4 linked regions of the Homo sapiens genome follow. The protein of the gene in region 3 interacts with the protein of the main gene of each other region in a biochemical or structural test. Each region holds a gene or a part of one and is shown on either strand. Other genes may lie near its edges. The genes, in order: MAG, PDGFB, COL3A1 and THBS1.

What was found.
Region 1: the proteins of COL3A1 (region 3) and MAG form a complex in vitro, tested with the Homo sapiens proteins (one study listed by BioGRID).
Region 2: the proteins of COL3A1 (region 3) and PDGFB form a complex in vitro, tested with the Homo sapiens proteins (one study listed by BioGRID).
Region 4: the proteins of COL3A1 (region 3) and THBS1 form a complex in vitro, tested with the Homo sapiens proteins (one study listed by BioGRID).

Annotation. Positions count from the first base shown.
Region 1 is NC_000019.10:35,309,140-35,314,319, forward strand, and holds the end of MAG (myelin-associated glycoprotein isoform a precursor), read left to right. Parts: intron 1-734; coding exon 735-1,022; intron 1,023-1,407; coding exon 1,408-1,504; intron 1,505-2,778; coding exon 2,779-2,878; intron 2,879-3,141; coding exon of another isoform or gene 3,142-3,174; exon of another isoform or gene 3,175-3,186; intron 3,187-4,150; coding exon 4,151-4,315; 3' UTR 4,316-4,668; downstream 4,669-5,180. UniProt on the Homo sapiens protein: Adhesion molecule that mediates interactions between myelinating cells and neurons by binding to neuronal sialic acid-containing gangliosides and to the glycoproteins RTN4R and RTN4RL2.
Region 2 is NC_000022.11:39,222,830-39,227,986, forward strand, and holds the end of PDGFB (platelet-derived growth factor subunit B isoform 1 preproprotein), read right to left. Parts: intron 3,019-5,157; coding exon 2,894-3,018; 3' UTR 2,866-2,893; intron 2,485-2,865; 3' UTR 530-2,484; downstream 1-529. UniProt on the Homo sapiens protein: Growth factor that plays an essential role in the regulation of embryonic development, cell proliferation, cell migration, survival and chemotaxis. Potent mitogen for cells of mesenchymal origin.
Region 3 is NC_000002.12:188,998,340-189,005,372, forward strand, and holds part of COL3A1 (collagen alpha-1(III) chain preproprotein), read left to right. Parts: intron 1-334; coding exon 335-379; intron 380-945; coding exon 946-1,044; intron 1,045-1,130; coding exon 1,131-1,238; intron 1,239-1,502; coding exon 1,503-1,556; intron 1,557-3,057; coding exon 3,058-3,111; intron 3,112-3,196; coding exon 3,197-3,250; intron 3,251-3,958; coding exon 3,959-4,012; intron 4,013-4,615; coding exon 4,616-4,723; intron 4,724-5,071; coding exon 5,072-5,125; intron 5,126-5,394; coding exon 5,395-5,448; intron 5,449-5,642; coding exon 5,643-5,804; intron 5,805-5,917; coding exon 5,918-6,025; intron 6,026-7,010; coding exon 7,011-7,033. UniProt on the Homo sapiens protein: Collagen type III occurs in most soft connective tissues along with type I collagen. Involved in regulation of cortical development.
Region 4 is NC_000015.10:39,576,159-39,584,094, forward strand, and holds the start of THBS1 (thrombospondin-1 precursor), read left to right. Parts: upstream 1-4,920; 5' UTR 4,921-5,070; intron 5,071-5,549; exon of another isoform or gene 5,550-5,670; 5' UTR 5,671-5,699; coding exon 5,700-5,766; intron 5,767-6,034; coding exon 6,035-6,594; intron 6,595-7,458; coding exon 7,459-7,534; intron 7,535-7,829; coding exon 7,830-7,936. Other genes in the region: uncharacterized protein LOC124903470, read left to right, coding at 4,160-4,594. UniProt on the Homo sapiens protein: Adhesive glycoprotein that mediates cell-to-cell and cell-to-matrix interactions.

The sequences.
Region 1 (5,180 bases), on a different chromosome or scaffold from region 3:
GTGCTCTGTCCAGGCTGAAGCTGAGGCTAGAGTCGCCTCAAAAGTGGCACCAGAAGAATTGCCCCAAGAGAGCACCCCAAACCACCCCGAAATGAGGCCACTTGGGATTCCAAAGAGAGAGGCACTAAACCACCAGGTGATCATCAGTCCAAAGCATTTGGGAGGGGAACTTGCACAGTGCTACGGCGAGAGAAAGGGAGGGTCTACCCAGACACGTCCGTGAGGGTCAGGGTATGGGTTTACATGAGGGTTTAAGGAATTTGGCCCAGGGCTGGGGCTGGTTTCTTTCATTCTTTCATTTTTGTTGTTGTTGTTGTTTGGGGTTTTTTTGAGACAGCGTCTCATTCTGTAACCTCTCGTACTCCTGACCTCAAGTGATCCACTCACTCTTCGGCCTCGCAAAGTGCTAGGATTACAGCAGTGAGCCACCATGCCCGGCCTCTTTCAGTGTTTTGAGCAACAACCTAAACACCTTTATCAGTGCCTGGGAATGTTCAAGGCCCCAGGCGTGGGTTAGTGAAGCTTGCAGTGAAAACAGGCAGCCGGCGGGGTCGTAGTGAGGTCAAGGCGCTCTCAGTCAGGACAGAGAAAAAAGGAGGGGAAATTGGAGGGCCCTACAGGAAGCTACCGCCCCCATCCTTGGCCACACTGGCCTTGCCTTGAGCCAAGGAGTCTCCGGGGCCGGGCCTCGCGTTGGCTCCGGGCCACCCTCAGACCTGATTTTGCCCCTGCAGTCGCCCCTGTGCTCCTCCTGGAGTCCCACTGCGCGGCAGCCCGAGACACGGTGCAGTGCCTGTGCGTGGTGAAGTCCAACCCGGAGCCGTCCGTGGCCTTTGAGCTGCCATCGCGCAATGTGACCGTGAACGAGAGCGAGCGGGAGTTCGTGTACTCGGAGCGCAGCGGCCTCGTGCTCACCAGCATCCTCACGCTGCGGGGGCAGGCCCAGGCCCCGCCCCGCGTCATCTGCACCGCGAGGAACCTCTATGGCGCCAAGAGCCTGGAGCTGCCCTTCCAGGGAGCCCGTGAGTGGCGTGGACTTGGGGTGGGAGCCACAGGAGGGAGCGGGCACGTCTTAGATCCAAGCTCCCAAGGCTGACCAACAGCCACAGAGCATGGGCTATGCAGATTGACAGAAAGGTCAAATTCTCCCTTTCCGGTTGGAGAGGAGAAGCCGCCCTGAGTTTGCCCCGAGTTTGCTAGGACCTTTGAGGCATGAGCCCCTCCCCAGGGCCCTCTAGCATGAAAGGGATTGCCCTGGCACGAGGAGGCTCCGTGCCAATCAGTCAGTGCAAGGATGCCCCGGCTGTGTGACTACATTGACTGTCATCCCAGCATGTCTCCAAAGTTCTCAGGTGTCGTCACCACCACCCATAGCCCTAAGGGCGCCTGGGTCTTTTCTGTCCTCAGATCGACTGATGTGGGCCAAGATCGGGCCTGTGGGCGCCGTGGTCGCCTTTGCCATCCTGATTGCCATCGTCTGCTACATTACCCAGACACGCAGGAAGTGAGTGCCAGCTGGGGCTGATCTGGGGATGGGAGTCTCCAAAAAGGGGACCTGGTGGGAGATGGAGGCCCAGAGTGGGTGGGGGAAGGCAGCACCATAAGTGTAGAGAAGGCAGATTCTGTTCTGGGAATGTTCAGCTGGACAGAGGAGAGAGGGTTCCTGTTAATTCCAGCCCCTGCTGGTCAGGGGCACACCAGGGCCTGGGCTGAGCCCTTTACACACATCATTTGAGACCTGTTTGCCCACATTCTATTTTGACAGCCTCCCTATCTCTAGGAACTCTCCCCTACACACTCCAGTGTGGTGGGGAAAGCCCAGGTACCCCACTGCAGCCACAGCAGCAGGTCCACTTGACGCCAGAAGCCCCAAAGATTACACACATCTGGGGCAAAAAAAAAATAGGCCTTGGCCGGGCGCGTTGACTCACGCCTGTTATCCCGCACTTTAGGAGGCCAAGGAGGAAGGATTGCTTGAGGCCAGGAATCTGACACCAGCCTGGGCAACATAGCAAGACCACATCTCTAAAAAAAATTTTTTTTTAATTAGCCAGGCATGGTGGCACACACTGTAGTCCCAGCTACTTGGGAGGCTGAGGTGGAACGATTCTTGAGCTCAGGAATTAGAGGCCAGCCTGGGCAACATAGGGAGACCCCATCTACAAAAAAACAAAAAAATTAGCTACTAGTGGCACGTGCCTGTTGTCCCAGCTACTCGGGAGGCTGAGGAGGGAAGATCGCTTGAGCCTGGGAGGTTGAGGCTGTAGTGAGCTATGATTTCACCACTGTACTCCAGCCTAGGTGACAAAGAGAGACCCTGTCTCTAAAAACAAACAAACAGACAGACAGACAGACAGAAAGCCTCTCCAGCCCCAAACCATACCCACCTGGCCCAACTCAGCTGCAGCCGTGTTTCTTTCTTGTGGCACACACACATCAGCTGTCCTGAGAAATAAATTAACCCCTCTGCTCCACATCCTGGTGGCAAGAGGGGCAGAAAGACCCAGAGCCTATGAGGGGAACCTGGAGAATCCAGGTGGGGGTCCTGAAAAACGGCAGAGCTCAGGGGCCAGGTGGCTCGTCCCCAGCCGGGCAGGGGCCACAGAGGTGGGAAGGATGGGCTGTGTGGGTAGGAGAGGCTGGTGGTTCTGAAAGGGCTGCTTGCCACATCTTAGAGATGGGTGGGAGAACTCTGAGGTCCCCTGAGCCAAACTCCTAAAACACGTGGGGGTGCAGAAAGGGAGGGCAGAGAGAGGTCTGACGAGTCCTGCCCTGCAGAAAGAACGTGACAGAGAGCCCCAGCTTCTCGGCAGGGGACAACCCTCCCGTCCTGTTCAGCAGCGACTTCCGCATCTCTGGGGCACCAGAGAAGTACGAGGTAAGGACCAGGCTCCAGGCTGGCCTGGGAACCTGGATGCCAGGGACACTGAAGGCCTGGGAAAGGCCTGTGAGGCCAAGGGGCAGGGGAGTGGGAGCGGCCTCTCACAGGAGGAGAGGAAGGACATTCCAGGGCTGGGTTGGACCTGGAGGCTGGGGAGGAGGTGCCCAGGCCGAAGCTGTGTAGGGGGCGATGGGACGTGGGGCCTAAGGGCCCCCTCCCCTCCCTGCCTGTGTCTGTGACTGCATTTCCTTCTCCAATAGTCCAAAGAGGTTTCTACCCTGGAATCTCACTGAGTGCCCCAGGAGGTAGGTTCCGGGGGCCTCAGTGTGCCCTCCTCTGGGCCCTCCTTGGGCCCTGGGGTTGGCGTGCATGTCCGTGTGTCCCTGTCAGGCGTCAAGGTGGTCTCTGGTGATGTCCGGGCCTGCCCGGCAGTGCTGGCCTTGTCTAGTCTGTCCTGTTGCAGCTCCCTTCTGTCTGTGGCCACCGTCCTGTGTGTCCAAATTCCTGTGGCTAGGGGGTGGAGGGAGGGGTGGGAAGCGTGGGGGGAACCCACATGTCACCTGCAGGACCTCCCAGATTGAGGGCGGACCCATGCAGGACCCATGGGGGGGCACGTACCAAACCAGGTATTTCCAGGAATTTGGAAAGATGGGGTCCTGACTAGGTGGTTTTCACCCAAAAAGGTATTAGGGGTTACATTGTGTGCCCTCAAAACTCCTATGTTGAAAGCTTCCTGGACGGGGGCAGTGGCTCACACCTGTAATCCCACAACTTTGGGAATCTGAGGCGGATGGATCACTTGAGGTCAGGAGTTTGAGACCAGCCTGGCCAACATGGTGAAACCCTGTCTCTACTAAAAATACAAAAAATTAGCCAGGCGTGTTGGCAGGTGCCTGTAATCCCAGCTACTTGGGAGGCTGAGGCAGGAGAATTGCTGGAACCCAGGAAGTGGAGGCTGCAGTGAGCAAAGATCGAGCCATTGCAATCCAGCCTGGGTCTCAAAGAAAAAGAAGAAGAAGAAGCAGCTTCCTGGAGAAACTGAATTTGTAGGCAAATTTCAAGTTCAGCAATGATTAACACTGGCAGAAGCTCCAGAGTGGGACCTGGTGACCGCAGGGCTCGCTGGGCCTGCGGTCCTTGAGAAAGGAGGTTCTCGCAGGGATTTATTTGGGACTGAACTCAGGAGCTCTGAGGGTGCAAACGCTCTGTCCTCTGCATTGGGAAAAGGCAGGGAGCAGGACCCTGCTAATGGGCGGTTTCCCCTCTTAGAGCGAGAGGCGCCTGGGATCTGAGAGGAGGCTGCTGGGCCTTCGGGGTGAGCCCCCAGAGCTGGACCTGAGCTATTCTCACTCGGACCTGGGGAAACGGCCCACCAAGGACAGCTACACGCTGACGGAGGAGCTAGCTGAGTATGCTGAAATCCGGGTCAAGTGAAGGAGCTGGGGGCAGCCTGCGTGGCTGACCCCCCTCAGGACCCTCGCTGGCCCCCACTGGCTGTGGGCTCCCTTCCTCCCAAAAGTATCGGGGGCTGGGGCAGGAGGGGAGTGAGGCAGGTGACAGTGAGGTCCTGGGGGCCTGACCTCCCCCTCCTTCCCAGCTGCCCCTCCCTGCCAGCACCCCCACGCCCTCATTACGGCTCCTCTCTAACCTCCTTTACCCTCATCTGTCTGGAGGGGAGCTCTGTCTGTCCGTGTTATTTATTGCTACTTCCTGCCTGGTCTCCTGCCCCCACACCTGGCCCTGGGGCCTGTACAAAAGGGACATGAAATAAATGCCCCAAAGCCAAATGCCAGTCTAGATCCTGATGCTTTCTGACCCGCCTTTGGGCAGCCTGCCATCCCACCGTCTACAGAACGATGACAGAATTTCTCCTTGCCCTCGGCTGAGCCTGGTATGCAGGCAAGGGCCCAGGGATTTTAGCCTTGAACCCAGGGCCAGTGGCCACTAAGTTGCTCCCACTCTGAGCTGGTAGCTGCGAGCTGGGTCTGGTTTGACTTATGGATGATTTCACATAAAAATCCTCATGCTGGTTTTTGCCGCAGTCAGATCAGCTGACAGCACCAGGCTTGCACTTGTACGTGGACATGACTTGCTGAAAGGGAGGGTCCTGTGCACTGGCCGCAGTCCCCACCACTCCCTATTGTCCCACACCTGGCCGGCTTCCTGCACTGAGATTACCTCCTGGTCCCTGCAGCTTGGAGTGCGAGCCACAGATCTAGGTCTCACCAGCCCGTGTTGGTTTCACCACCATCTCTCACATTCATGCTGCAATTTGCAGCGTCAGCCTTTATACATCACT
Region 2 (5,157 bases), on a different chromosome or scaffold from region 3:
GTCCATTGATCAATCAATTGCTGGGAGCCCAAATGTTATTCAGTCTAACCTCAGCCACATTGTTCCCCAGTTTTCGCTTACACACTTCCAGTGACAGGGAGCTCACTACTTCAGGTGGCAAAATGGTTTTAGTTTTAGATTGCCCTTATGAGCCAGATCTTTAGCTTCTGGGTCCCTCTCAGCCCCAGTCCACGCTGCAGGTGGGACCTAGAATACATTTAGCCTCTTTTTTATGGGCTGGTACCCAAGTCTTCATGAGCAAGAGAAAGCGCAGAACACAGGAGCTTGGAGCCCACGCACCTTTCCTCATCCTCTCTGGCCAGAGTGGGTCTGTGACTTGCCCAAGGCCACACAGCTGGCTAAGGGCTAAGCCAAGACCAGACCGCAGACCCGGCTTTCCACTGTTTCCTTCTAAATCCCACATCCCCTCTGGGACTTCCTTCAGTGTTCCCCACAGTGGGCACTCCCTCCCCACATCCAGCCCACCCCACGATGCTGAGGATCCACTTCCTCTATGGAGACCCTCAGGCTGCAGAAACCCATCTCTCGTCACTGCCAGAGACACGCACAAGTCCACGTGTCAGGAGCTGTGCCAGGACCAAGACCAACAGAGTAGCCTGTGTGTCTCTTCTTCCCGCCAGACAGAGGCCTCCCCCAAGTTGCAGGCCTGCGTGTATGTGCACGCATGTGTGAGCATGTATGTGTGTGTGTGTGTATGTGCACGCCAGTGTGTGAGATCACGCCTGAGGCTCCCAGAGTGAGAGGAACACGCCGCAAGCTGTCGGCACATCCTGCCAAGGCAGAAAGGTTAATTGTCACGCACGATGCCAACAGACAGACCTCCGGCGGATTCATTTGGTTTTGTTTTGTGGTTATTTTTTTTTACAACTTTAAATACGGAATATAAATAAATTTTACATTTAAAAAATAAAAGGAAAGCCCCCAAAAATATAATCACCGACTTTACAAACTGAAGGAAGCAGGTTTTGGAAGGCGGGAAGGGGGAAAGTGCAGTAGGTGGGAAGGGAGGTGGGAGCTCAGATCCCACCCCAGGGGGTCTTGGGGATCTTTTCCCTTCTCTCCCCCATTCCCAGCCCACGAGCTGGTTTCCTAGGAGGAGCCACCAGAGGTGGAGCTCAGAAGGATCAAAGATGGGGAAGTGTGCAAGCAGGGAGGGGTGCGGGCAAGAGGGCTGCACCCTCCCTTGGAGACCTTCTCCCAGGTGTCCCACACCCACCTGGAAGGGCAGTTGCTGGAGCAGAGGACTTTGGGAAATGGAGGTCATGTGGACAGCAGTGTTGCCTCCCTGCCCCTACCACAGTCTCCCTCCTATTTGGCCACTCCAAGCCACAGGCTGCATCAGGGGCACAGCCAGTCCACAAGGAGTCTTTGTGTGAATTAGGAAAAGGATCCTTTTCCTCTTTACCTACATCTGCCAGAAATTGTCATAATAAATATACAAATCAGCTTTATCTATGATGTGAACAGTGCTCCCTGCATACAATGTCCTTGTGCAGTACACACCCTGCACAACCTTACATGGCAGTCGTGGCTGGGTTGGAATATGATGAGCAGGTCCCTTGCTGCCCTGGCCTCTAGTCTTCTGCCCTAGAGAGGAGTGACTGGGATCATCTGGGGCCTTAATAAGGGGTTCAAGAGCCCCTTGGTGGAGCAGACTGAAGGGCCAGGACAAGAGGAAAATGCAGGGTGGAGGTAGAGAGATGAAAGGAACCAGAGGAAGAGGTGAATCAGAGTGGAGTGTGGGGAGGAAGGGGTGGCAGGAGGCAGGGGATACCCAGGTCACCATCTACAGCCACCTCAACAGCAAACTCCATCTCTAACCCACCTGAGAGGGCACCCAGCCACTTGGTGTGCTGGCCACACCCACCAAGAGGAGTCCACGTCTTCAAAACGAAAACGAAAAGAAGCCACTGTGCACAGAGGCACCAGGGAGACGAGGTGACTGGTGTTTGGGCACCGTGGGAGGGGTTTTCTCCAGTCTGTGTGCCCGTCTGTGGTCTTAGCCATGGAGTCCGAGGCAGCCTGGCCTGCCTGGAGGTGCCTCCCCTCAGAGCTGGCCAGGGGTTCAGGGATCAGGCAGGCTATGCTGAGAGGTCCTCAGGGCTCCTCAGGACAGTCCACAGCGCTCAGGTGTGGCCCAGGCCAGGTGCAGGGGAAGGAGCCCGTTTCCCCCAAAGAGCGACCCCATCAGTCTCTCTCACACTCTTATCCCAAGTTCTTGGAGTTAAGGGAAGAAGATGGCGATGGAGTTCAGTCCTTCTTTTTCTTCTTGAGCTGCTGGGCAAGACGCCGGAGGCCGCTGGGAGGAGACCCGCTGATGGAAGGGTGGACGGACACGTGGAGGGGTGGGGGAAGCACCATTGGCCGTCCGAATCAGGCATCGAGACAGACGGACGAGGGAAACAATATTATCACTCCAAGGACCCCATGGGGGCAATACAGCAAATACCATATTAAATAACCCTGCAGGCCAAGCAGAGAGACACAGGGGTCAGAGACAGCCTAGAGGGTCCATCCCATGTTCATATGTCCCCGATGCCAGGGGCAGGGAGCTGGGGTCAACTAGCCACCCCTGATTTCCAGCAATGCTCAGGGCTGGGGGCATTGAGGGGCTGGGAAGATTGAGATTTAGACCTCCCATCCTCTTAGGGCATGCTGGGACACAGCTGGGCTGGGGTCTCCAAAGCCCACCACCCACCCTGCCCCAGCTGATAACTGGACAGGGAGGACCAAGGCTCAGAGGCTGGATTTTCTATGGAAAAATCCTTTCCCCTGACCCCATCCACAGACCACAGAGAAGAAAACACAGGATTCTGGGCCTCAGTTGCCCCGCCTGGCCCTCACCTGCCCACACACTCTCCTGCCGATGCCCCTAGGCTCCAAGGGTCTCCTTCAGTGCCGTCTTGTCATGCGTGTGCTTGAATTTCCGGTGCTTGCCCTTGGGGGGCCGGCGGACTCGCACCGTCCGAATGGTCACCCGAGTTTGGGGCGTTTTGGCTGCACAAGAAAAAGAAAGACCTCGTCAGCATGTGGACCATTGGGGAGGTCTCTCCCCACTGACCAAGGCCTGCCATGGACCTTCTGGGCTCAGGAAAGGGACAGGAGGGGAATCTGGACCAGGGTCCTGGGTTTGGATCCCAACTCCACTGCTCACCAGCTGTATGTGCCTTGGGGACAATGACTGAAACTCTCTGAGCCTTGGCGCCTCCATCTGTGGAATGGGGGTAATAAGACTGCCCACCTCATAGAACTGGTGGGAGGAATAAATGACAGTATGCTGGCAAAGCTCTTTGCACAGTACTGGACACAGAGCCGGGTAGATTAAATATGGCTTCAAGTTCTTTGTCATTGCCCACTGACCAATAGAGTTTATTTCCCTGCCCCTTGAATCTGGCCTGGAGTTGGATCTGGTTAACCAACAAGAGGCAGACGTGGTGCCGTGCCAGTTCCAGGCAGAGGTCTTAAGAAGGGCTGGCAGTTCTCACCTTCATGCTTTGGGGGACCCTGGGCTGCCACATAACAGGTCTGGCTACCTTGCTGGAGAGGCCACATGGAGAGGCCTGGTGGGGACTGGCTCTCCCCGTAGAGCCAGAGGCCCTGGACTACAGGGAGAGGAAAAGAGGCCCAGCTGTCCCCGTTGAGTCTCCAGATGACCACAGCCCAGGCCACCAGCTGACTGCAACCAATAGAGGGGCCAATAGAACTGCCCAGCTGAGCCCAGTCAACCCCCAGACCTGGGAAAGATAATAAAAAGCTCCAAGTATGAAGTGGTCAGCACATGGCAGCTGCTACGACTCACTTTTTTTTCTTATTTTCCTTAGCTTGACCTACTATTGAGGTTTCCTCCCAACCTCTCAGCCCCGTCCGATCACGTGGTGTGGAGGCCACTGGGCTCTGGGCCAGAATCATACTCCCACCATGAAGCTGGGCCTTCGGGTCAGTTGTGCCTGTCACCTACCTGCCCCTTGCCACTCTGAGAAATGGTAGAGTGGGATGGGCCACAACTCAGGCTGAGGATCTGACCCACCTGGGCTCAAATCTGGGCTCTCCCACGTATCGTGGACATTGGAGCAAGTCACTTAACTGCCCTGTGCCTCGATTTCCGCATCTTTATTTATTTGTTTTTAAGATGGAGGCTCACTCTGTTGCCCAGGTTGGAGTGCAGTGGCGCGATCTCAGCTCACTGCAACCTCCACCTCGCAGGTTCAAGTGATTCTCCTGCCTCAGCCTCCCGAGTAGCTGGGATTACAGGCATGCACCATGACACCTGGTTAATTTTTGTATTTTTAGTAGAGATGGGGTTTCACCATGTTGGCCAGGCTGGTCTTGAACTCCTGACCTCAAGTGATCCACCTGCCTTGGCCTCCCAAAGTGCTGGGATTACAGGCATACGCCATGACACCTGGTTAATTTTTGTATTTTTAGTAGAGATGGGGTTTCACCATGTTGGCCAGGCTGGTCTTGAACTCCTGACCTCAAGTGATCCACCTGCCTTGGCCTCCCAAAGTGCTGGGATTACAGGCGTGAGCCACCACGCCCAGCCGATTTCCACATCTTTAAAGCAGAGAAGACAGCAGCCCTGGCCTCCTAGCGTTAGGAGACAATACATGGAAATGGCCAGAAACCCCCCAGCTAGTGTTTACCATGTACCTGGTGCTGTTCTATGCTCATTTCCCTTCACGGCAGGTGCTGTTACCGGCAGATGCTGTTACCCACACTTTACAGATGAGGAAACTGAAGCAGAGAGACTGGGATTTGAACTCAGGGATCTGCCTCTAGAGTGCACACCTCCAACCACTCAGCACAAACGACAGTGCCTGTGAGCCTCAGTCAAGGGGAGCTCTTATACACTTCTCTCCGTCCTGGATTCCCAGGTGGCCACCCTGGCAGGGACAGCTGTGTCTGCTGAGCTCAAGGCCAGCCATTTCCTGGGAGCCTTTTGAGCTCTCCCAGCCTACCGGGATCTGACACCTGACCTCCCACCTTACAGACACCAGCTCCCACGAGGCAGCTCTCCCATCTCTGCAATTGCGCAGATTTTCTAGCAGTTCAGGGACTTGAATGGGCTTCAGATCCCCTCAGACAGAAGACACCAGGAGGGCCACTGAAGGGCCCAGGGAGTTTCTTCCCCAGAGC
Region 3 (7,033 bases):
CAAAACTCAGAAACAAAAAGAATACACACTGTTTGTTTGTCAACTATTAACTTCTTAATTTTCTTATGCCATGATATTTGAGATTTAACATTTAGTTTTGAAATATTATCAAAACAAAGACAAATTATTTAAAAGATAACTATTATATAGAGTTTGAATTTTACCATAAAATAGAGAGTTCATAGTTTCAAGATTTGAAAAATTATACAGTATGCCAACATGACAAATGTGTATTTTGCTTATATTTACATATTTGCTTATATTTACATATTTGCTTATATTTACATAAAATGCACTCTGATATGGGCCTAATCATATAATGCCAATCTCCCAGGGTCCAAAGGGTGATGCCGGTGCACCTGGAGCTCCAGGAGGCAAGGTAGTATTTCAATTTATTCTCTACCTTCTTCAGCAGGTTATAGAGCAATTGATTAGTAGTATATTTTTAGTATATCAAGCCAAAATACTCTTTCTTTAAAAGAGCATCATTGCAAATGTTTGGTAAGTACACTTAGAGAAACTCAAGACACTTTCAATACATTAAATTTGCTTTAATCTGGAAGGTCCAATTCTCTGACATTCATAATCACTACAGAATCAAATACGGGCTTAAAATTTCAAACGGAAAAATATTGCCAATATGTTGATTCTATGTAGGAAAACTGTTTTGGTAAAAAGAACTTTAAAATGTTGCTCTTGTGAATAAAATAATAAGTATTTCAATGACAGCTCACACTTAACCAGACTAAGTATCCAAGTTTTATTTTAGACACTCTTTTAAGCTTCTAGTTCCCACCCAGCTGTTCAACTATTTTTAAGTATACAAATTTCTAGATTGTTCACAATATAATAACCTAGTGGCCTGATTCAAAATGATGCAAGTTAAGGTGCTTTGTTTTTAGCTTTGGGTTGTCTAATATGGTTATTTACATATTTTTGTCACAGGGTGATGCTGGTGCCCCTGGTGAACGTGGACCTCCTGGATTGGCAGGGGCCCCAGGACTTAGAGGTGGAGCTGGTCCCCCTGGTCCCGAAGGAGGAAAGGTAACTCCACAGCATTCCATTCACCTAGGTTTAAAAAATGCATTTGATTTCCTTCTGATCATTTATTATTTCTCACTTATTTTCAGGGTGCTGCTGGTCCTCCTGGGCCACCTGGTGCTGCTGGTACTCCTGGTCTGCAAGGAATGCCTGGAGAAAGAGGAGGTCTTGGAAGTCCTGGTCCAAAGGGTGACAAGGTGTTGACTTGTTTTCTCTTAATTGTTCAATAAATCAGTCATTGTAGGTTTTAAAAAAAGCAACACTCCTGGAAAGTAATCGACTGTATTTTCAAAATTAATGTTATCATTTTATAGTAAGTGAAATTTAAGATGGATTCCTAAAGCAACAATGAATTAGAACACCCAATATATATCCCTACAAATCCTGAGAGTTACTCCTCTTCTTGGCTGATTTTCACTGAAGATACTTTGAATCTGATGACATTGGCTTTTATTTGACAGGGTGAACCAGGCGGTCCAGGTGCTGATGGTGTCCCAGGGAAAGATGGCCCAAGGGTGAGTATTCCCAGTGAGGAGAAGCAGGCCTTATCTATATGTCATATGGGACAGTCCTGCACTTCAACTTTAATTTTTTCCAAAAACTACTCAAGAGAAATTAGATATTTTACCACCTAAAGACCCGAATGACTTGATTTATAATGAAATTTGTGGTCTATATCTATGGCTACTTGATAGATCTACAGTGACTAAAGAATGAAAAAGCCTCAAGAGTACGATAAAGGTCACAAACTAGCATTTGTGAGTCACTAAAATCTGAGATAATCACTGAAATTTAGGATAATCAATGCTGCTCATTAAGAAACTAAAAGTCATCAAAATTCAATATAGTAAGTACTCCTCATTAATAGACTTAATATTTAAAAATTGTATAGTATTTAGCAACAAAAAGGAATGAACAATTGATGCTGTACACACAGCAAATTATACAAACCTCAAGGACAACATACTCAGTGAAGAAAATTCAGTCACCAAGGGATACATACTGCATGATTCCATTCCTACAATATTTGCAAAATAACTTCCTTGTAGAGATGTAGAACAGATTAGTGGTTGCTAGCAGTTAAGAATGAGAAAGAGAGAGATGGATGTGGCTATGGAGACATGACACAAGGGAGTCTTATGGTGATTGCACATTTGAGTATCTTGATTGAGGTGGTAGTCAGGCACATCTACACATGGGATAAAATTCTATAGAGCTACATATACACACACATAAATGAGTGTGTGTATCACTGGTGAAATCTGAACATGCTCTATGGATGGTATCAATGTCAATTTCCTAGTTTTGATATTATATTATAGTTGTGTAAGATGTTAACATTAGGGGACGCTGGGAGAAAAGTGCACAGAATTTCCCTGTATATTCCTTTGCAGCATCCTATGAATCTATAATTCAAACTAAAAGTCAAAAACAAAACAAAAAACATCTCCTAAATATGATTATAATTAAGTCTTTTAATAAATTTATATAATAGTTGCCTTAAAGAAATTCATAAATGCTTCGCTTTTGACAGACTAAGTAGATAAGCCGTCATTCAGGTAAAAAGAGTGCTCAATACTTCAGTTTTGTAATATAAGTAAAACTACTATTTGAAAATTTCAAGTTGAAAAATTTAATATGTACAATGAGACTTTGAGAAAACATTTAAATTATCAAGCAATTGAATAAAGAAATGTACTTTAATTTAAAAAGACATTACTGTAAGATCTTACATGACATCCTATTTATCTTCTACAATGGAGATAAAGATAAATGAATCAATAAACTATTGCTGAATCCTATTTTCTCCCAGAGTTATCCCCAAAGAGGCTTGTGTTTACTGAGCTCTGCAGTATTTACACATTGAGAGAAAAGCATAGCATTCAAGCCATAAAAATTTTTAAAAAGTATGTTATCTAGTTTATTAGGTATCTATGTCTATATACTTTCTGTTTGATTAATGCAAAAAACGATATTTGTATCTTCAAAATTAAAAAATATTTTTATTTCCTCTAGGGTCCTACTGGTCCTATTGGTCCTCCTGGCCCAGCTGGCCAGCCTGGAGATAAGGTAACCCTTAATACTACCTGGATATAAAAAGAAAATGTCTCTCTCTTTTGGATGCAAGACAGTGACATGGCTTCTCTTTTTCCAGGGTGAAGGTGGTGCCCCCGGACTTCCAGGTATAGCTGGACCTCGTGGTAGCCCTGTAAGTGTTAAAGACATTCTCAACATACTTTTTAACCCCATACAGACAGTAGCTACTTATGCTTCCCTTTTTGGCAGTTTTGCCCTCAGTTCCCTGAGCCTCAATTTGGAGATATTATCTTCAAAAACCATATAAGGAACCATATAGCATGCAAGGGAATGTTAAATTTCTTAAATCTAACATTCACAGGAGACCATTTTAAATCAGGATTTCTTTCCTAAATAACTTTGGAAAAAATACATGAATTGCACAAGTAGTACATGTTTGTAATTAGGTATTTCTTAAGCCTATAGAATCTTTGCCTGAGACTCCTTCTAGATTTAAAAGTCTTGACCTTCAGGATTTAAGACTCTGGAAAGATATTTAGTAAATGGTTTTTAAAAATAAATCAGTTAATTTTTCAGTTAAGCTTCTACCATATATTGAAATACATAAATATCTATATATATAAATGTGTTAAATACTTTAAAATTCTCAAACTATTTTTCTTGCAAATAATATCACAGTAGGAGGCAGAAGGAATCAATGGTTCTGGTATTTTCCACTCCTAATTTTATTGAGAAGTGGCAAAGTCTTCAGAAGTTTATTGGCTACTCTGCACATTTCCTGCTTAAAGGAAAGAAAAGATAAGATGATAAGATGACATTTCCTGCCTAAAGGAGATGACGCACACTTCACTGTGACTAAGGAGGATATTTTTCTCTTCAGGGTGAGAGAGGTGAAACTGGCCCTCCAGGACCTGCTGGTTTCCCTGGTGCTCCTGTAAGTGTGAATATTTATACATACATGTCCCATAGCCCAGGATCTCTATCTTGCTGAAAAATTACAAAAGTATAGTCAAGTTTGGTTTCTAGTCTCATTTTAGCTGCTCATTCCCTATAGGATTATTGTACCCCTATTTTGTTTTACTTTACCCCTATTGTCGCTCTTTGAAAGATGGAAATAAAAACACCTGTCCTGCTTTTATGACTGGGTAATGAACTAAAGCAGTATCATGGATTTAAAAGCACTCTGAATTTTTGTAAATTCTTCCATTATAAGATGGTACTAATTAAAATTTTCTCTTAAATCCGGTCTTTCTCAAAAAAATTTACTGGTGCTGATTTTCAAATGTTTAATCCTTAGAGACACTTCCTCCCTCCCTAATGGCAAATAATGCACAGTTTATGCTTTCTTGGTCATGTTCTTTGATCATGAAAATATTTTGATTGGCTTCATTTTGTCATGTCTTCAGAAAGCCTTGTTTTTAAATTTTATTTCAACTCCTTCCATCTGAAGAATTCTATATTCTGAAGAGAAATAATAATAAGCCAATTGTATCATAAAGAGTGTCAGCTGAGAGATTGCTGTTGTTGTTGCATGTAGGGACAGAATGGTGAACCTGGTGGTAAAGGAGAAAGAGGGGCTCCGGGTGAGAAAGGTGAAGGAGGCCCTCCTGGAGTTGCAGGACCCCCTGGAGGTTCTGGACCTGCTGTAAGTTCCTTCCTCTTTCTCTGTCTATCTATCTATCATCTATCTATCTATTGATTATCTGTCTATCTCTCCCTCTCTCTCTCCCTCTCCCCCCTCTGTAAGTCCTAAGTGTTCTAATGGAAAAACATGGAGGTTTATCAGTAATTTAATATTTTATACTGAGATAGCATGTCATAGTGTCAAGAATATAATCTTTATATGAATATAGTCCAAGTATGAATCTCAGCACCAGCAATCTAAAAGTTATTTTAACCTCTTCATAGAGTTCCTGGTTTTCAAAGGCTTAATGCTTTTCCCAAATTTTGATTTTGGTGCTATTCTTACATAATTTCCTTCCATTTCATATAGGGTCCTCCTGGTCCCCAAGGTGTCAAAGGTGAACGTGGCAGTCCTGGTGGACCTGTAAGTATTGATCCTCTTAACTATTATTGAAAAGCATTAATTGATATCAACCTGTATAAAAGCTGCATTTGAGACACTAGTTCCATAAAGAGAATGTAAAAATTGTAATCGCTCATTCATACATGAGTTATATGTAAATTCCAAGGGGAAACACAAACCATAAATGACTTTCAGGTACAATGCAGATCATGCCACACATTATACTTTTTGTTTGTTGTACAGTTATTTGTTCTACTTTTGAAATTCAAAAATATATTACCATTTCACAGGGTGCTGCTGGCTTCCCTGGTGCTCGTGGTCTTCCTGGTCCTCCTGGTAGTAATGTAAGTAATTGTTAAAGTCTTTTCTCATCATACACTTCAGAAAGAGCATTCATGTATGTATAGGATGAGAAACTTACACATTGCTACTTATTTCTCTAGTAAGTCTCAAATAAAATTATTTGAAGTAAGTAAAAAAAGAAAGAAAAAATGCACTTTTTATTATAAATATTCAAATTTCAAACAATTATTTGTAGGGTAACCCAGGACCCCCAGGTCCCAGCGGTTCTCCAGGCAAGGATGGGCCCCCAGGTCCTGCGGGTAACACTGGTGCTCCTGGCAGCCCTGGAGTGTCTGGACCAAAAGGTGATGCTGGCCAACCAGGAGAGAAGGGATCGCCTGGTGCCCAGGGCCCACCAGTAAGTAACTTCATTTTTTTAAATTGATTCTACTATTTTGATTTTTATCACAAATCGATTAGAGAAAAACACTGTCACATAAAGATGAGCTAAGTCTTCATTATCTGTATTAGGGAGCTCCAGGCCCACTTGGGATTGCTGGGATCACTGGAGCACGGGGTCTTGCAGGACCACCAGGCATGCCAGGTCCTAGGGGAAGCCCTGGCCCTCAGGGTGTCAAGGTGAGTATAGTCATTTTCCACTACACTCTTCCTTCCTTTGGTAGCCTTCAGAGATCACTTAACCATATCAAGGATGAAAAGTTTTTCTGTCACTGGAGTAAATTAGCCAGGAGATAATTTTTTTTTATTTTTAGATTTTTAAAAGCATAAATTTTAATAAATGGCTCCAGAACACAAAACAGGGCATATCATAGACAAACCTTGAATATAAACACAAATAAATTAATATGATGAAAACAATATTGCCATCTCAAACACCTCTTTTAGGAAACTTGTGAATATTCTTCAATTTGTTGACTGTCAGTTTTGAAGGGGGAAATAGTGTTAGCTTATAGATCTTGGAAAGTCTTTCATTAATGCTAGTTATCCATCCATTCAAGTCATCTTGCACTCCTGACTCTCTTTCACTAGTATTATATTCCTATAACATTCTAGTGCTTAGCATCTAAAACATTCGTTTGGTAAACAGGATAATAAAATTGCATTTTTATTAGGGCTCGTATTATGGCACTTTAAGTACTTCTTTCAACAAAATGTTATGTAATATTGTCATAAAATTAATATTTCATATTTAAGTGTGTTCAATTGATATGATATTTCTGGTAAGTGTATATTCTTCAGATAGAGACAAATAACCTAATTTTAAGGATCACCATACACCTCTAGTTTCATGATGGCTCATTATTGTTTTTCCCTATACTAATCATGTTTATGTATTCATCTCAGATTACAATGTACAGTATTCTGAATTAGATAATCAATGTAACTATTCAGCCCTTTGCCATCCAGAGTCACTGAGCAAGTTAGAAAATGCAAGAAGCTTGCTCCCCCATATTTTTTCCCATAGCAGGCATAGTTTTAATTTTAAAATTCAATGAAGATTAAATAAAATAAGTTTTTTACCTGAAAATAAAGATATCTGATAACACCATTTTAATTGATTTCTTAAGTTGAAACAAAATGTTTTTCATTCCTTTGTATACAGGGTGAAAGTGGGAAACCAGGAGC
Region 4 (7,936 bases), on a different chromosome or scaffold from region 3:
TGAAAAAGCTTCCACGCTGAAACCCAAACCAGACCATATTTAGGATGCCCCATAAGGTGGCATTTTTTACTAAGATGATAAAGGATAAACATTGGTGGAGCCAGAGAGGCTGCTCCCAAATACAGTCCTCCCCATCAGCAACACTGCAGTAGCCTGCACCTATCGTCCAGAGTATGAAAAAGACTTTTGCCAAAGACGGCTTTTGGGGATTTATCATTATTACATGTTAAGAGCCTGTTCTCCATGTCCTCACCTTCCTACCTTGCTAATCTTCCCCATTTCCATCTTTCGGCCCAGTGTGAGACCTCACCATCTCCTTTTCCCATCTTCTTTCCTCCATACCCTTGGTTTCCTAGCAGGTCAATGCCCCTGCCCCTTCACTGGAATCCATCCATCCTGGTTATTCTTTTCTTTATGAACCTGCTGGACTACATCTCAAAGTTACCCAAAAGAGGGATACAAAGACACAATAAAATCGGAAATAACGCTCACCCTTACCAGCCTGCAGTTAAGAGTGTGTGGAACTAGGGTGGCTGCAGGCAAAGAGATAGGGGGAAGGGCTGCCTCATGCCATGGGCAGGACAGTAAATGGTGCAAATTTTCTGGAAAGCATCTTAGTAATATAGGTGAAGAGCCTTTACAATGTGTTTATCCTATGACCTATCCTTACTTCTCTTATTCTAAAGGAATAAGAAGAGGTTTAATCAAAGCATGAGTGAAAAGGCCATCCAAACACAGGGAAAGGGGCCGTTATGATGTCTACGGTTCTAAGAAATAGAAAACAACAACTTGGCTTAAATAATAAGCACATAACCAAAGAAATCTAGAAGTAGGATTCCCTTAAGAGTTGAGAGATTTAGCAGCTCAAAAATGTGACCTGACATACGAGTTCTTTCTATGCTTTTGTTCTTCCTCCTCCAACACTGGTTTCACACTAAACTTGGCTCCCCAGTGGCCAATAGCACCAAACAGCACTTATCGGCATTCTTGTTGGTATCCAAAAGAGATGGAGAAAGCCTGATTTCACATGGCTCTTCCTTAAAAGCAACAAAGGACTTTTCCCGGAAGCCTTCAGCAAACCTCGTCAGATTTGAATCACATGCCAATTCCTAAATCAGTCACTGGCAGGGAAGTGGGAAAAAGGGGAGGAGGTGTTTACCCTTAACCAATATGCCTACCCCTGCCCACTGAGATCAATTCCATAAAAGTATTGCTTCAGTTCTTTGAAGAGGAGTACAATGTTTGTGAGTCACTCACCACATTTACCCACCAAGAGCTAAGGGATAACTGAGTAAAATGGTAGAGCTGGTAGGAAAATGGTGAGTAGTCCCGTCCTTCTGTGCCATAATTGACTTGTACACAAAGAGATTTGGAAATTTAAACATAAGAACTCTCTCTTCCCAAGCCCAGGGCTTTGGGCACTTCAAGTCTGGTCCTTGCCTGGGCACAGTGGCTCACGCCTGTAATCTCAGCAATTTGGGAAGCCAAGGAGGGTGGATCACCTGAGGTGATGAGTTTGAGACCAGCCTGGCCAACATGGCGAAACCCCAACTCTACTAAAAAATACAAAAATTAGTTGGATGTAGTGGCACACGCCTGGAATCCCAGCTACTCAGGAGGCTGAGGCAGGAAAATCGCTTGAATCTGGGAGGCAAAAGTTGCAGTGAGCTGAGATTGTACCACTGCACTCCAGCCTGGGAGACAGAGCAAGACTCCATCCCACCCCCCACCAAAAAAAAATTCTGGTCTTTACATGTGAAAAAATAAAAGCTAATTTTTAAAAACTAAATAATAAAGAGTGTTAGGTGATAAGTTTTATGATAGAGATAATGTGTGCTTTAAAACACACAGCATAAAACAGATGGAAAACACCTCATGGAGAAGGGAGAGCTTGAATTGGTGTTTGATTGAAGGACAAGAAAAATCTGTTGGTAACTTCCTCCTGGCTCTGACCTCTGATGCAGTTAAAGTAAAGCAACTTAGAATTATGATCTAGGGAACATATTCAGAGAGAAATGAATTTATGATGTCTTCAATTTGAAGATGCTATGATTTTAGACTATTCTAGAATACAATGATTTTTCATTGCTTCACACTTGTAAGAAATGTTCCACTACTGAAAATTTGCAACACTTAAAAAATTCCTACACAAAATCACAGCCCACCTTGCTGTTCTATGCTAAATAAACAAAATATTTTTTCTCAATTATGTTGCTCTCCTTAATTACACGCAATTTTAAAACTAGCTGTAACTGACAGCCCTTTCCTCACACTTACTGCCAATGTATTTAGGTCAATCCCACCTCCAATTAGAGAAACTTAGAAAAAGGAAATCCTACGGTGAAATGCCATATGCCTTACAATTTTCAGTAACTAATCCTCAAGGATGACAACTTGGCAAAAAAGAGAACTGGACCAGCTCCCTGAAAGGTCCATCACTTCGGCCCATGTTAATTGATTGCCTTAAAATCACAGTGCTTCCAGGTTGTAGAGACACACTCAAAATGGACTATTGCCCTCACATTAAAGGGGATAGGTTTTCTTTTCCCTTTTCCCATCCCTGCTTCTCTCAAAGCTGCACAGAGGTATATGAGGTTTGGGGAATATTTGCAGCACATGTTGGCTGGCAAGAATGTGGGTGAATTCCTGTTAAGGGGCGCAGACACTCCCTCTTCTATGACCTTTCCTTTCCACCCAGAACAACTGAAGTATCATGATAAGAGGAAGGGCTTTGTGTTTGAGATAAGCAGCTCCTATACCTGTCAGCTTTCTCTAATAAGAAAGCTCTTTCCTGCCACCGTATAGGTCACCTTCTTATTGGTAAAGCATGATGAAGTTTGGAAACTGTTGTCCTTGTTTTGTTGAAAGAAGCCAAGTTCCAAGAAATCTGCAGAGGCATTCCTACAATCCCTCAGCCATGGCAGCATGAATCCTGAAGGGGCAGTGAGTGCTGGTTTCTACTCTGTCTGCACAGCTAAGCCTAGGGGAGATAATCTTTTCATACAAGATGCATTCTGCTTTTGTGGGCCTCTTGCAGCCCTCAAGCCCCCATCTGATTTGTACACAATGATCCAGTGGGCCAGAGGAGCCCAGAGCCATGAGCGGCCCATCCCTCCAAGAACTATTTCTGACTGTCCAGTATCATGGAGCAAGTGGAAAGAAGAAAAAAAAAACCCAATTACTTTTCGAAGAGCAAGATGAATGCTGTAGAAGGAGAAGGAAGGGGAGGGAGATGGATGGGTGCCGATTCCAGAATCTTCAGATCTGCTTGGATGAATCATTACCTATGATTTGCGGGACAAGAATCTGATTTTATTCATCAACCAGTAGAAACTTTTCTTTCTGCCTCCCAACATCTGAAATCCAACAAACATGTGCCTTAGGAACATACCGGTCATCTTTTAGAGGCATTTTATATACATATTGAGTAACTAGAAAACACTCTTTCCGTAATACACACACACACACACACACACACACACCATCTTGTCATACAACACTCCCACGCAAGAAAAGCGAAACTGCTGTTTGATGAATGTAAACACTTGGCTGTTTGCAGCAGTCGGGAGTCCTGCCAGGTTTAAGTGCTAAGATGGGAGGTGAACCCCAGGGGTTTCCCCCTGCCCGTGCTGAGATCCTTATTTGGTCAAGCTTCTACCTATGCCCTGGCCTCGGAGCGAGCCCGATAGCGCTGGATCACAGCAGAGGGAGCGAGGCGGCTGACGTCCCATCCCGAAGAGATGAATGGAATTCCAGGAAGCTAGAGTCATGCTGGCTTGGGACAGTGGCTTGGAGACCAGACTTCAATGACAGAAGCACTAGGCAGCGGCACTCATGGCAATGTGTGCACCCACAGAAATGTAACCCACACCTCGGGTTCAGGAGCCGAAAAATGAAAAGAACGTTTAGGGAGGAAAAAGGGAAATACAATAATAGGCAGAGAGTAATTTATTACTCTATGGGTCTGCTCTGTAAATAGCTGAAGACTCTGGAGCCAGATGGTTCTGCAAATTCTCCAAACAGGAGTCACGTTAAGAAGCACGAGTGGGCACAAAAACTGTTTTTCAAGACACAATTTCAATTTGGCTTGTGGAAACTGGATACGAGTAAGTTTCCTTAAAATTCGAGTAGAAAGCAGCTGTCCTCCCCGGGCCCCTTGATGAGAATACGCACACCGCCCCCAAGCGGCCGGCCGAGGGAGCGCCGCGGCAGCGGGAGAGGCGTCTCTGTGGGCCCCCTGGCAGCCGCGGCAGGAAAGGGCCCGAAGGCAGCGAAGGCGAACGCGGCGCACCAACCTGCCGGCCCCGCCGACGCCGCGCTCACCTCCCTCCGGGGCGGGCGTGGGGCCAGCTCAGGACAGGCGCTCGGGGGACGCGTGTCCTCACCCCACGGGGACGGTGGAGGAGAGTCAGCGAGGGCCCGAGGGGCAGGTACTTTAACGAATGGCTCTCTTGGTGTCCCCTGCGCCCCGTCGGCCCATTTTTCTTTTTACAAAACGGGCCCAGTCTCTAGTATCCACCTCTCGCCATCAACCAGGCATTCCGGGAGATCAGCTCGCCCGAAAGCCCCTGCGCCACCCCGCGGGCCCTCCTAGGTGGTCTCCCCAGCCCCGTCCCTTTTCGGGATGCTTGCTGATCACCCCGAGCCCGCGTGGCGCAAGAGTACGAGCGCCGAGCCCGTGCGCGCCAAGGCTGCGTGGGCGGGCACCGACTTTTCTGAGAAGTTCTAGTGCTCCCAAGCCCCGACCCCCGCCCCCTTCACTTTCTAGCTGGAAAGTTGCGCGCCAGGCAGCGGGGGGCGGAGAGAGGAGCCCAGACTGGCCCCCACCTCCCGCTTCCTGCCCGGCCGCCGCCCATTGGCCGGAGGAATCCCCAGGAATGCGAGCGCCCCTTTAAAAGCGCGCGGCTCCTCCGCCTTGCCAGCCGCTGCGCCCGAGCTGGCCTGCGAGTTCAGGGCTCCTGTCGCTCTCCAGGAGCAACCTCTACTCCGGACGCACAGGCATTCCCCGCGCCCCTCCAGCCCTCGCCGCCCTCGCCACCGCTCCCGGCCGCCGCGCTCCGGTACACACAGGTAAGTCGCCCCCGGCGGCCGCCGAGGACCAAAGCTGCCCGGGACATCCACCTGGAGCGCTGAGGCTTCAGTCCCTCTGGTGGACCCCGGAACCTACACTCTCCCCGCTCGCCTACCCCAGCCCGCTCCTCTCAGCCGCTGGAGGACTCTTCAGGGCAAGGCTCCAGAGCCATCCTCTCCAGCCTTGAGGTTCACAAACCAACTCATCAGGACACCCCAAGATTTCCTTACTCTCTGAAGTCCTCCTTAAGCCTTTGTATCAGCACTCCAGGGAAGAGTCTGTACTTCCCCTGCCCTCCCTGCAACCCCAAACTACAGTTCCTGATCTTGCTCACCTTCGACTTCCCAAAAGCCCCCAAATTGTTGGTCTTGCGCCCCCCACACTTTAAAACCAGCATCTCTTTCCTCCACCTCTCTCTCTCTCTCTCTCTCTCTCTCTCATGCTCTCTGGAAAGTAATCCTGTTGTCCTTCATTTCAGCAAACGCGGGGTCAAAGAGGGATGGTCCCGGCCCTGTCCCCATGCCCAGCCCCGTTTCTGCGCACCGTCCCTCCCTGCCTAGCTGATCTCTGACCCTCGGCTCTTGTGCTTCCTGCTACAGGATCCCTGCTGGGCACCAACAGCTCCACCATGGGGCTGGCCTGGGGACTAGGCGTCCTGTTCCTGATGCATGTGTGTGGCACCAACCGCATTCCAGGTGAGTTTGTGTGGCACCTTTAGGGGAAGGAGGGACAAGGAAGAGGTGCTGGCTATCCCAGGTGTGCCCCCTCACGTGCTGTCCTCTCCCTCTTGAGCCTGACTGGACATCAGGACGCAGCTTCACTCTGATCCTGGTATTTATTCACCTCTTTCAGTGGTTGCCAGGAGTTTTCACCCCAACCCTTTGTCTCCACCCCTAAGGACTCAGCCCCCTACTGCTGGTCCCAGCCTAGAAAGCTCACTTTGTGTTCTCTCCTGTCTAACAGAGTCTGGCGGAGACAACAGCGTGTTTGACATCTTTGAACTCACCGGGGCCGCCCGCAAGGGGTCTGGGCGCCGACTGGTGAAGGGCCCCGACCCTTCCAGCCCAGCTTTCCGCATCGAGGATGCCAACCTGATCCCCCCTGTGCCTGATGACAAGTTCCAAGACCTGGTGGATGCTGTGCGGGCAGAAAAGGGTTTCCTCCTTCTGGCATCCCTGAGGCAGATGAAGAAGACCCGGGGCACGCTGCTGGCCCTGGAGCGGAAAGACCACTCTGGCCAGGTCTTCAGCGTGGTGTCCAATGGCAAGGCGGGCACCCTGGACCTCAGCCTGACCGTCCAAGGAAAGCAGCACGTGGTGTCTGTGGAAGAAGCTCTCCTGGCAACCGGCCAGTGGAAGAGCATCACCCTGTTTGTGCAGGAAGACAGGGCCCAGCTGTACATCGACTGTGAAAAGATGGAGAATGCTGAGTTGGACGTCCCCATCCAAAGCGTCTTCACCAGAGACCTGGCCAGCATCGCCAGACTCCGCATCGCAAAGGGGGGCGTCAATGACAATTTCCAGGTGAGGCTTCTTCTCTGAGCCCTGCTCCGTGGGATCATCTGCTAGACAGGTGACCTGCCAGGAGGGCTACAGGAAATCCTGTCTGTAAACTAACGCAGCAGTTCTCAGATTTTAGGCAGCATGAGCATCACCTGGAGGGCTTGTGAAAGCTCACCCTGCTGCACCCCAGCCCCAGAGTCTGGGATTCTGTAAAACTGCAACTCTAACAAGTACCAGGTGATGCTGATGCCGGTGGTCTGGGAAGCACACTTTGAAAACTACTCAAGGAAACAAGAAATGGTTTTCCTTTAGCAGTCAGCCTGTTCAAGCCTTAGATACTCCTTAGGCTCTTAAGAAAAGAGCTTATTTCAAATGCATTCCCCCAATTTTAATCTTGTTTGAAATGGATACTTTCTATGGGCAGAATCAGTACCACTTTGCTATTGGATTCCTCATGGGGATGCAGCTGGTCTCACATAAAAGGTTAAAATAGCAGTTAGTTGTTGCTGTTACAGCTTCATCTGTGCCTTAACTTCTAGATCTTTGCAACGGTGGCTTTGAACTCCCACATTTAACTCTTTGACACTGGAAAGTGTCATTATATCCTCTAGGCTTAGGATCAGATTCCATTTCCTGTGTACCCAAGTAGGCTGATAACTGAATTCTTTGTAAAATACTCAAGACTTGGCAGAAGTCACAATTAAGATTTTGAAGTTGTTTGGCGATTAATGTTGCTGTGTTATTTTGACATAGTGATCTTAAGACAGCTCTTTGAAGCTTTTAGAACATCTATTGTATGCTTTTCCTAGCATACAGACAGTCTCCCCCAACCCCATCCCCACCCCGCTCTGCATTCTACAAGTAATGTGTGTCCTCTGCCCACAGGGGGTGCTGCAGAATGTGAGGTTTGTCTTTGGAACCACACCAGAAGACATCCTCAGGAACAAAGGCTGCTCCAGCTGTGAGTACCCCTCTATTTTTAGGGCACATAGGGAATCAGGGGGAATTCCACCAAAAACAAACTGAGGAATTTAGCAATAGTGGTTATACATAAATTACCCCCAGTGAGATCATCAAGAGGCATACAGAAGTGACTCCAAGGGGTATTATACACACACACGTATACACACGTGCGCATACACGCAACCCCTCTACCTGCATCCTTCACACCAAATGAAACGTCTTCTACCACTAAGAACTCAAGAGGCTGGTTGGTAAGAGTATCTATTTGAAGTTTTCATTTTGTTTCTTGCCAGCTACCAGTGTCCTCCTCACCCTTGACAACAACGTGGTGAATGGTTCCAGCCCTGCCATCCGCACTAACTACATTGGCCACAAGACAAAGGACTTGCAAGCCATCTGC